Regions from separate parts of the Homo sapiens genome. Here region 1 is linked to region 2. Evidence: fine-mapped expression QTL. Tissue or cell type: subcutaneous fat. Region 2 holds a variant in brackets; the other region holds the start of a gene. All regions are shown on one strand. Distances are from middle to middle.

What was found. PIP is the estimated chance that this variant, and not a neighbour inherited with it, causes the effect.
Region 1: it holds the start of RBM38, and the variant in region 2 is fine-mapped to the expression of RBM38 in subcutaneous fat (FUSION, PIP 0.93).

The regions. Positions count from the first base shown.
Region 1 is chr20:57,388,631-57,393,723 of GRCh38, reverse strand. RBM38 (RNA binding motif protein 38) reads right to left here and starts at 2,328. Exons shown (of 4, transcript NM_017495.6): 1 at 1,906-2,328; 2 at 947-1,070; 3 at 391-445. The coding sequence starts at 2,142. RBM38-AS1 (RBM38 antisense RNA 1) reads left to right here and starts at 668. Exons shown (of 2, transcript NR_149006.1): 1 at 668-1,445. RefSeq lists enhancers at 666-855, 1,610-2,109, 2,110-2,611 and silencers at 1,706-1,895, 2,246-2,645, 4,256-4,635.
Region 2 is chr20:57,067,875-57,072,967 of GRCh38, reverse strand. No RefSeq gene overlaps it. Among named protein-coding and RNA genes, the nearest start is that of BMP7-AS1, 140 kb to the left of the region's middle. RefSeq lists an enhancer at 1,312-1,875. The variant G/A (reference allele first, on the strand shown) is at 3,152.

The DNA.
Region 1 (5,093 bases), 320 kb before region 2:
ACTCAGCCTGCCAGTCCCTAAGAGTCATCAGCAAACACTTCAAGAGGGCGTTACCTGCACCAGGCCCACCCTAGGCCCTCCATTCAGAGAACTCAGATGTGCTGTGACCACTCCCATTTTACGGGTGAGGAAACTGAGGCCACACACCTAGCGAAGGGAGCTGGGGTGTGTACCAAGGCAGGCAGGCTCCAAGGCTCACCATCCCCTAGGTGGTATGGCCTCTGCCAGGGATGGAGAAGTGCAATCTGCCTTCTCTTCACTCCCTTGGCTTAAACGCAATCAAATGTCTGAAAACTGTCATTTCCCCAGCCTTCCAGACCCAGGAAGCCCAAGGCCCTCTCCACTTCATCTCCACGGACTACCCACCCCAAGCCAGCCATGTCCACTCACCCGTAAGTCCGCTGGATCAAGGTGGGGTGCAGCTGCTGCACCCCAATGGCAAAGCCTAAAACGAGAGAACAATCAGGGACTTGGCCTTGCTGCACGAGCCACGTCTCAAGGGCTGCACACAGGGTGGCAGAATCCCACAAGCCACACACCTCTAGTCAAAAGGGATCATCCGCTTCCTCTCCCCTCCCAGGCCTCCCCCTTGTGAACCCCAAGGCACACCGCTGAAGTGTGGCAGTGAGTGACGCAGGTGTCAGCAGCCACTGGTGTCGGCACTCCCAACCTCCAGGCCCCATGGCCACTTCCTCCCTCCTGCGAGGACAGCTGGCAACTGGGGTGCAGTACCCTCCCTGCCCCCCGCCCCCTTCTTTGGGCCACACGCTGTGAGAAGGGGTCTAGATCCTCGAGGGGGGGATGGCTGCCCTGTGCCGGCTCTGCAGGCACATGATAGCCGACTGCCACTGCTGGGGCGAGGAGGGGGGGCCTCTTTCCACCCGACAGATACCGACACCCAATATAGAAACCGAGAAGAGCCAGGCAGGAAAACACAAGCTCTCACCCGTCTGGAGGCTCCGCGGCTTGGCGCCCAGATATGCCAGGTTCACGTTGGCCTTGCGGCCGTCGATGATGGGGTTCGGGTCTTTGCAAGCCCTCTCAGCTGCCGCCCGGTCGGCCATGGTCACCTGGTGGAGCAGAGACACATCAGGGGCTGCCGTGGGGGGAACCAGGGGCGAAAGGGGCAGACGGCTCCGCCCTGGCACCGGATGCTGCCACCCCTCTCTTCCCTTCCTCTGAGGGTGCCTGTGACCCAGGGTCCTTGAGCCAAAGCTCCTCTGAACCCTACCTGGGGCTCTCCCACAAAGATGCCTCCTGGATTCCAGCTCCTCCCGTCAAAGTTCAAGGCCTGGGAAATGTGGCCTTCAAGGACAAAAATAATCCCCTGCGGGGATAGGGCAAAAATGAACCCCGAAGGGAGCTTGGGGGGCCGCCTGGACTTGCCCACCAGTGAGGGCCGAGACTTTCCTCTGAGAAGGAGTTTGCGACGCTATGCTTGGAAGGTAAGCAGGAAAGTGTCTTCAAGACGTTTTTACTTAAGCTGATGTTTATTTGGGGCGGCTGAGAGGGCTGTTAAAAATATGGGGGAGGCCGAAGAGCTCCTAACACCCCGGGGTGGAGCCATTGCTCCTCACCCCCCGCTGCTCCAGGAAATCCCGAGTGCCCTCTGGCTCCAAAACCTCCCCACCAACTTAGGAGTCCTAATTGAACACAGCGGCTCTTCCTTTTAAACCGGGGGTGGGGGTGGGGGTGGGGGTGGGGGTGGGGGCCGGGGCCTGGGGTGGTGGGGGCGGGACCGGCAGGAGCGCGCCCGGGAGAGGCGGCAGGTGCGGGCGCCGGCTGGAGGCGCCTGGGGCGGGGGCGGCAGCGGGCCGTCTGGGCGTGTGCCCCGGAGTGGACTCGGCGCCCGGGCCGCGATAAGGTGTGCGGCGGGGTGCGGGCCCGGGCGCGGGGGCCACTTACGAAGCCGTAGCCGCGGGACTTGCCCGTCTGGCGGTCGGTGATGACCACGGCCTCCTCGATGTCGCCGAAGCCCTCGAAGTACTTCCTGAGCGAGGCGTCGGTAGTGTGGTACGGCAGGCCGCCCACGAAGATCTTGGTGAACGTGGTGTCCTTCTGCGAGCCGTGCATGGCGCCGGGGGCGGCCAGGGGCCGCGGGAAGCCCGCGCTCGGGGCGCACGGCGCGGGCTGCAGCAGCATGGGGGGCGCCCCGCCGCCTACGGACCCGGGCCGCGCGGGGCTGCGCTCATGGGGGGCGGCGGGGAGCGCGCGGGGCAGCGAGGGGCGCCCGTCCAGCCGCCAGGCCCGACCACTCCGGCGCCCGTCCCGCCGTGCGCGCCGACGTGCGCCGCGCTGCGCTCCCGACCGGCGCTGCGGGGACTCTGCGCCCCGGCACCGCCCCCGGGCTTTGTAGCCTGCCGCCCCCGCCAGCTCAGCCCCGCCCCCAGCCGGCCCCGCCCCGCCCCGGGCGCGCGGGGACCGCCGGGAAGCGTAGTTCTAACCCCGCCCAGCCGCACCCGGGCGCGCGGCGATTGGGGGGAGGGGGGAGGGGAGCGCACGCGGGCTGAGGGCGGATCCGGGCCTGGGGGCGCTGGGCGCGCCTTTCTCTCCTGGCTGCCCCCGCGGGCCCGGCCGGTTGCAGGCACTAAGCACAACCCTGAACTAGGGAGGCCAGGCCCCTTCCCTCGTGGAGCGCACCGTCTGGTGAATTAAACGTAAAAAACGTAAAAAAACGTAAACGGTTTTTAGCATCTTGTTAATTGAGTCGGTATTTAACCCAGGGCGACTTAGGGAAGAGCCACGTGCCATATTAAAAAAGGGAAATGATTTCTGTTTTATATGTAAGATTAGTTCATCCGACCGATATTTACTCTGGGCGCGAGGCTGCAGCGGAGCACAGATCATATTCCCTGGCCCCACGGAGCGTCCAGGACTGAGAATTCGGCTAGTAAACATACAGCATACGACCCCGGAGGGAGCTACACCACGGTGCCGCGATAGAAGCGGGTCCCGGGCGGTCTCAGAGGCCCCGCGGGAGATGAGGTGGGCAGAGGAAGCAGGTGTGGGCTCTTTCCAGCTCCACCCCGTTCTGGGCTGGTGTCAGGGACCCTTGGGGCGAGTAAGAGCAGACCCGGGTCCCTCATCCGGCCCCCAGCCATAGAAAGGCGGCGCATAGTGGGGCTCTGTGAGCTTCACACCAGGCAGGGCCAGCCACAGAATTTTCGGGGCCCAGTGCAAAATGCAAACGCGGGGCCCCTTATTCAAAAGCTAGGAATTTCAAGTTGGCAGCGGTTGAGCATGAAACTCAGCCCCGGGCTTTCCTGAGCGAAGGGAAGGGCCGTGTGACTGCACAGACCCCGGGATCCCGGACCTGCGGGTCACACCCTCCACCTCTGAAGCCGGGACTAGGGGCCTCAAGCCCGCCTCATCTCCAGCCCCCGCGGTTGGGACCTATGCAGCTGGGAAACAGCAGCTCTAATTGGGGTCACTCCCGGCCCCAGCCCTGCGGCCTCCTCTCAGCACAGGGCGACGCAGGTGGGGTCTGTGGGGACTGGGAGTGGCACTCCGTGGGCTGTGGGGGACCGCAAGGCCGGCGAGGAGTTCCCCTCGTTTCCTCCAGCACCGAGGAGTTCTCCGCGTTTCCTCCAGCCCTCTGCCCTGGCTGCCGGCGGGGAGGAGTCTGCCCGCCCCCTCCCCCACTCCACGGCCCACGCTCCACGCGGCAGCCTTGACCTCTGACCTCTCCCTCCCCCAGCTCCCGCTCTAGCCCTCTGCACAGTGGGGATGGGACCCCCGAGTCTTCCGGAAGCCTGGGCGTCCTTTCCTCCCTTCCCCCTTCGTTCCTCGTTCCTGGCGCTCCTGCCCCCGCTTGCGGCCCCCGTTGCCCTTCATCCCGCGTGGTTTCCTCTCCTTCCTTCGCGGAGTTTCCCACCTCCCCGGCCCTGTGTGTTCGCCTGCCTGGAGCCCCTCCCCTGCTATTTGGGCGCTGCGAGAACAGGGACCTGGGATGTTTTGCCCAAGCTGGAGGGCCTGGCAAGGAGAGGGCTCTGGGATATGTTTGTTGAGTGTATCCACGATGGAACAAGGTGGGGTGGGGGAAAGCTCTGGCCCAGCCGGAGGCCCTTCGAAGCGACTTTGAAAACTTTCATTTAAGTGTGACCTTCACTTGCCCCCTAGAGGCCGGGGGAGGCGGCCACTGCGCGGCCGCGTGCTTTTGCGCCAGCTGGATCCCTTCACCAGGCCTCGGTTTCCCCTTCAGTTTTTCCAAGGCTGTCCCCAGCCGTCGCGTTGCCTGGGCAGGCTGGAGCCGCGTCGGTGGCGTGGCCACGGGCTTCAGCCCGGAGGCGCCCGGGCTCCCGGCCTACAAGTCCCAGCGCCGCCCGGGCCCGCCTCGCCCGCGCCCCTCCCGGCACGACAGCCCCACAAAGGGGTGCGGCCGCTCGGCTGCTGCCGCGGGGGCCGGGCCCAGGCGGCAGGGCAGCCCCGGGGCCTCTGCCTGCCCGGAAGGGGGCGGGACAGGGCCGTGGAGGCTGGAGACGCGGTTGCCCAGGTGCGGGTCCAGTCGCACTCCTTCGCCCCCCGCCCCCGGGCCCCCTTGGGTATCTGGATCACCAATCCCTCCCCCCCTCCGGCGGCCCCATGTCTCCACGGGTCACCAGCTTCTGCCTGACAATCAGTCATTCACCCAAACACACACTTTTTTTTTTTTTTTTTTTGAGACAAGGTCTCTCCCTGTCGCTGGAGTGTAGCGATCATAGCTCATTGCAGCCTCGACCTCTCGGGCTCCAAGCCATCCTCCTACCTCAGCCTCCCAAGTAACTGGGATTACCGGTGCGTACTACGATGCCGGGATAATTTTATATTTTGTGTAGAGGCTGGTCTCGAACTCTTGGGATTAGGCAATCTTCCTGACTTGGCCTCCCAAATTGCTGGGATTACAGGCTGAGCCACTGCACCCAGCCTCAAACACACATTTATGTGCACCACTGCACTCCAGCCTGGGCGACAGAGCAAGACTCCGTCTCAAAAAAAAAAAAAAACTACAGTCTCATCAGCGCCACTACTTGACCTTGTTGTTGAACGCATTGATGAAGAAGACATTGCTTGTCTACATTGCTACATCACATATTTGTTTTTTAAATATTTTCATA
Region 2 (5,093 bases):
AGAGGAGGAAATGAGCCGCAGGGAAGCTTTTGACTTGGGCAAGTTCTCACCGCTACTGAGTCTGGGGTTGGTACGGAGTGACGCTCTCAGCAAAGGTCTATGCTTCTATGCGTATGATAGTGCCTTGCTATGCCAGGCGTGTGGGGAGTGTGCCATGCTATGATAATGATTATTAAGAAATGGCTTAATTAAATATGTGTGATTACATTTATTTCATTATTAAATTTCAGAACCAGGAATGGTAGCTGGTCTCAATGGTTCTACCCAGGACCCAACTGCTGTCTGTCAAATAGGTGTTTGTTCCAAGCAAAGACCTGGGTACTCCCACACTGCGGCTGGAGCCAGCCCTGCAGTAGCCCCACTCCTTCCGAGAGCCCCTCACTCACCCTTCTGGGGGCCTCATTGAGGAAGGCTGAGCAAGAGAATGACATTAAACTTCAAACGTCTCTTTGTCTCTGAAATTAATGGAGAAGAGAAGTCTTTAATGGGTTGCAGACTTGTCTGTGGGCTACAGTGACATGACTCAGCCCAATCATCCTCCCAGCTCTGGCCATCTTGGCTTAGCTGTTTACCAAGAGACCAGGGGATGGAGATGTTGAGGGCTTAGGGTGACGGAGGCAGCACCAAACCTGCACCTCCAGCCCTGGTATGCTGGCATTCAGGAAAGCTGTGCTCGCCTAGCGTGGTCTCCAGTTTCCTTTTGGGGAGTGATGTAGTTCCCTCCTCTCAGGAAAGCAGTAACTCAGTCCTGCCTGGCAGTGGGAGAAGGGCTGTAGAGAGATGTAGAGAGGTGTTTCTTAGCCTGTCACATGCCCAGGAGTTCCCAAGGGATCCTGTGAAAATGCAGTTTCTGACTTGGGAGGTCTGGGGAGGGGTCTGGGACACCGCATTTCTACAGAGCTCCCAGGAAATGCTAAGGTTTCTGGTCCGTGAGCTGTAGATTGCAAGTTGCAATCTGACTTAGGGTATATTCCCATCAACACACCCGCACATACGTGCACACACAGGCTGGAGGGGGAGGTGGAGGGTGGGCATAGAGCTATCTGGGGCTGACTCCAGCTCCACTAGGATTCACCTGTGTGTCTTGGAGCAAGGTAGTCCATCTCTCAGAGCTCCAGTTTTCTCAGCTGTAAAATAGGAGGAAAGCCAGTGACTACATCAGGCTGTTGTGAGGATTAAAGGAGATCACATGTAAGGGGGTTTATGATGAGAAAGGGCCGAGAGAGGAGAGACAGCTAGATGGCGAGAGAGACAGAGAGTGAGGAAAAACACACACAGAGACAGAAAGACAGGGAGAGAGACAGAGAGCCAGGGCGCCAGCAGGCAGCATTCCTTTTCAGACTCCTCTGCACTGTGTGAGTGCCCTAACCGGTTCCTTCCCTCTCTCTCCCCGCTTTCCTTTGTGTATTTATTTATTTACTTGTTCGATGGTTCATTTATTTGTTTTAATACCCCCCGACATCATCTGGGCCATGACATTCTGAGCCACATGATGGAAGGCTCAGGAATTGTTGTAAAGTGTCACTTACATCTCCGATGTTTGTGTGAACAGCACGCACGGCGGTGACAGTGATAATGGAGGTCACGTGAGCTCTCTGATGTCTCATCAGGTCCCGCTGGGCAGCCAGTATCGGCTTGTAATGATCCCTGCAGACAGGTCAGGGGAACTTGCCACAGCGCTGGGTCTCAGTATAGCACTTGCGGTAGTTTTTATTCTCCTCTTTGCATTTTTAGAAGTATTTTCCTAAGTGTGTAATATTTTAATGAAACATAATGTTTGTTGTTAGGGCACATGTAATGAGGACCCAGTATGGGCTATATAGGCGGCTAACCAAGAATGTAATCAGTGTTCCATTCAATCTGCGTGTTCAGTCATCGCTGGAACATCCCAGCCTGTCAGATACCCTCTGCACTGTCAGAAATTCCCTGCATTACGCTTCACGCCTTCAACTCTTGAAAGCCTGATTTTTGGAAGGGCAGGGGTGACTCAAAGACAATTGTTGCCTTTTGCAGCTGATTCTCTCCGTAATATGGAACCCCAGGATTTGAGACAGCATCAGTGGCCGCCTGCCATGATGCCCCAGGAATGTCTGGTCCATCTCCATAAGCCAGGGCTTGGCAGGAGCTTGGTTTGTGGATGAGCCAAGTTCTTGGGTGGGACCTGCTATGATTTGAGCACTGGGGACTGGTCCCTAAAATCTCTCATGTCCATGTTAAAAAGAACTGTTCTCTTGATTGCTACTTCTCCAGCAGTAAAGCACTCACCTAGGTGACAAGATCTCAGCTGTGACTGGGCTGAACATGGCATTGGCCAACCAAGCTCTAGAGGTTCCCATCTGTTTGGGGTCAGCCCTGGAGCAGAGGAAAGTCTTTTAAACTGGAGAAGCTGGGCCACACATTCCTGGGGAGAAGAGTGACCCTTGGAGGCCAAGTTTCTCTTCATCTCATGGAAAAGGTGGGGGCATTGGGCGAGGTGGGGCTGGGAAGAAAACTCAAGTCAGCTGCCAACAGGCCAAGCCCCCCCACCTGGGAAGAGGCTGAGAGAGCTGCCTGGAGCCCATAAAAGCCAGTCCCCCTCAGGGCTGGCTCCAGGGTTTATTAAATACTAGGCCTTCTAGACTAGGAAAAGACTAAACAAAATGTGGTTTTCCTCTGTGAACTGATTGCATCTGGGGGTGCACTTCCCGAAGACCAGTCTGCAGGGATCCCTGGCCTGGTGTAGACATTCTGCCCCTTGACCCTGGTCTGAGGCCCTGGACTAGGGTCACTGGCTTCCCTGAGGACAGCCCATCAATGCCAGGAGGGGGAGGGGAGTGGGTCAGTAGCTTAGGGAGGGGATGAGGATGGATCCACAGGCCCCGTGTTGTTCAGTGTGGAAGCTGGTGGGGCCTGGGCAAAAGGAGAAGATAAGAGTCTAGTCCTGGGATTGCGTCCTTCCCTGCCACAGCAGCTACTGTGAAGACCAGGTACTTAGGAAGAGTGGGACCACTCCAGCTAAACCAAGTGACCCTGTCTTCCCGGAAACTGGGCGGTTCCTCTCCTGCGATGTGGGGAAGGGTGAGAATGGGCTGGTGGAGATGCAGGTGGAGGGCAGGTGGGAGGATTCTGAGGCTCTGCGGCACTACTTTTGCACCCTCCCCTCATTTTCCAC[G/A]GTGATTCATTTTCTTTTCTTTGAGTTATCGTTGGAGTAAGAAATGCAAACAAGGCAGCTACAGTCCTTAGATCCTTAGGTCAGACAAGTAGCATTCGCAGTCACAGCTGAGTGTCTTGGCCTGAATACTGTGGCCGGTCAGAGAGCAGCTGGGCGGGGACCTGTGAGCAGATTCCTGTCCTTGTTCCTGTCCTGTGGCTGAGACCATCCATCCGGGGCCAAATGGTGGATTCCCTCTTCTGTCTTAGGGAAGTTTCCTTTTCGCCTGCAGGAAACCCTTGGGAGCAAGCACAGCTTTTCAGAACCCATTCTGACAAATTACAAAATAAGACTTTTGCCCCAGTTTTTCTCTGCACGATTTGACTTAATGTCAAATAGTGTCATTGGTCTTGATGAAAGTTATTTAAAAGAAAAAGTGAAATTGTCCATAAAAGCCTGCAGTTATAACCAGAAGTATCTGGGTTAGGTGAAGCTACAAGTTACAAGACAGTCTTGTCCCAGATTCCTAGGAAGAAGGGGATTGGCTTCAATCCTACATGCTTTGCTTAAGATTGATTTATCTCAAATAAGTATTGAGATGCATTTATTACCACCTACTACCTATCAGCTGCTTAGCCCTGTAAACTTCTATAAGCATGCCCAAAAGTCACCTCCTCAGTGAAGCCTTCCCCGGCTTCCTCAGGTTGCCTCTTCTGCATTCCTATGACATTTTATTCACCTGTCTATCACAAGACTCTCCAGTTTATGTATTTCTAATAATAAAGTAACCTTAAGGAAGCTGTGACCCATGAGGGTCAATGACCAAGACCTTGGAGAAGTGATGTGTGCAAGATGCACAGTTCTGCAGCCAGAACGATGTTTGAAAGCACCTCCATTTGCTACTTTCAAAAGAACATAAAGAGCGTAATGGAAATTCATCATGTTTGGTTGCCTGGCCCCATTTCCCCTTCATAACCATGACAGTTTTGATTCAAGGGCTTGCCCTCCTCCATTTACAGATAGGGCACTGGGCTTACAGCACCCCTCCCCTCCACACAAGACAGACAGAAGTAGGCACATGAACCACACCAAGTCAGTCAGATAGCCCACTTTGGAACCTGAGTCTCAAGCAAAGGGACAAAGAGGCTGACATTGTTGGTGTTTCATTCCATCGCAGAAACTGCACCTTGATCAGACTGTTTCTGCTACCTGCCTCATAGCCTGCAGCCTGCCTTGCTCCTACTCATTCTCAGTCCCACATCTGCAGCCTGCCCTCAGTTCTGTGATGCTTCCAGTGAATTCCCTTTTTCTAAAGTCAGCCAGGACTGATTGCTGTTGCTTGCAACGAAAGAATCCTAGATCACTCAAAGTTCCCCAATGCTTGACTTCCTGCCACTTTTTTCAGATCCCCTTTTCCTTATTCTCCCATTGTCTGACACTTATGTTCCCTAAGTGTCTTCTTTCCTCATCTCCAGTGCCATTTCCCTCCCCCATCCTGCAGGAAAATTTTACCTTTTCTGCCCACTCTTTTCTCTCTCAGCTCTTTATTTTGTAGATTGTCTTAATCAGTCTCTTTAAAGCCTTTCTCTGTCCTTCCATCAAATCCAGGCTTTCTTGACCTTCTGGCATCCCAGAAAGGAGGTCCAAGAACCCAAAGGGTTTGATAGAGAGTGAGTCTCCCCAGAGGGCAGGAGACAAAGTGATGGTTGAACTGGACTAACGCCCCTTTGGCCAGCAAAGGAGGGGTTGTTGGTAAATGCCTCATCTTTACTCTGTCACATGAGAAAGGCTGCCACAGGTGAAGAACTTGTGTGCCACTCCCACACTCATCTCCCCTCATCCTGCCAATGAGGGAGACTTCCTTCCACCACAGTAATTTTACGTGTCAACTTGATTGGGCCACAATTAATGCCCAGATTAAACATGATTCTTGGTGTGTTGGTAAGAGGGTTTCCAAATGGGA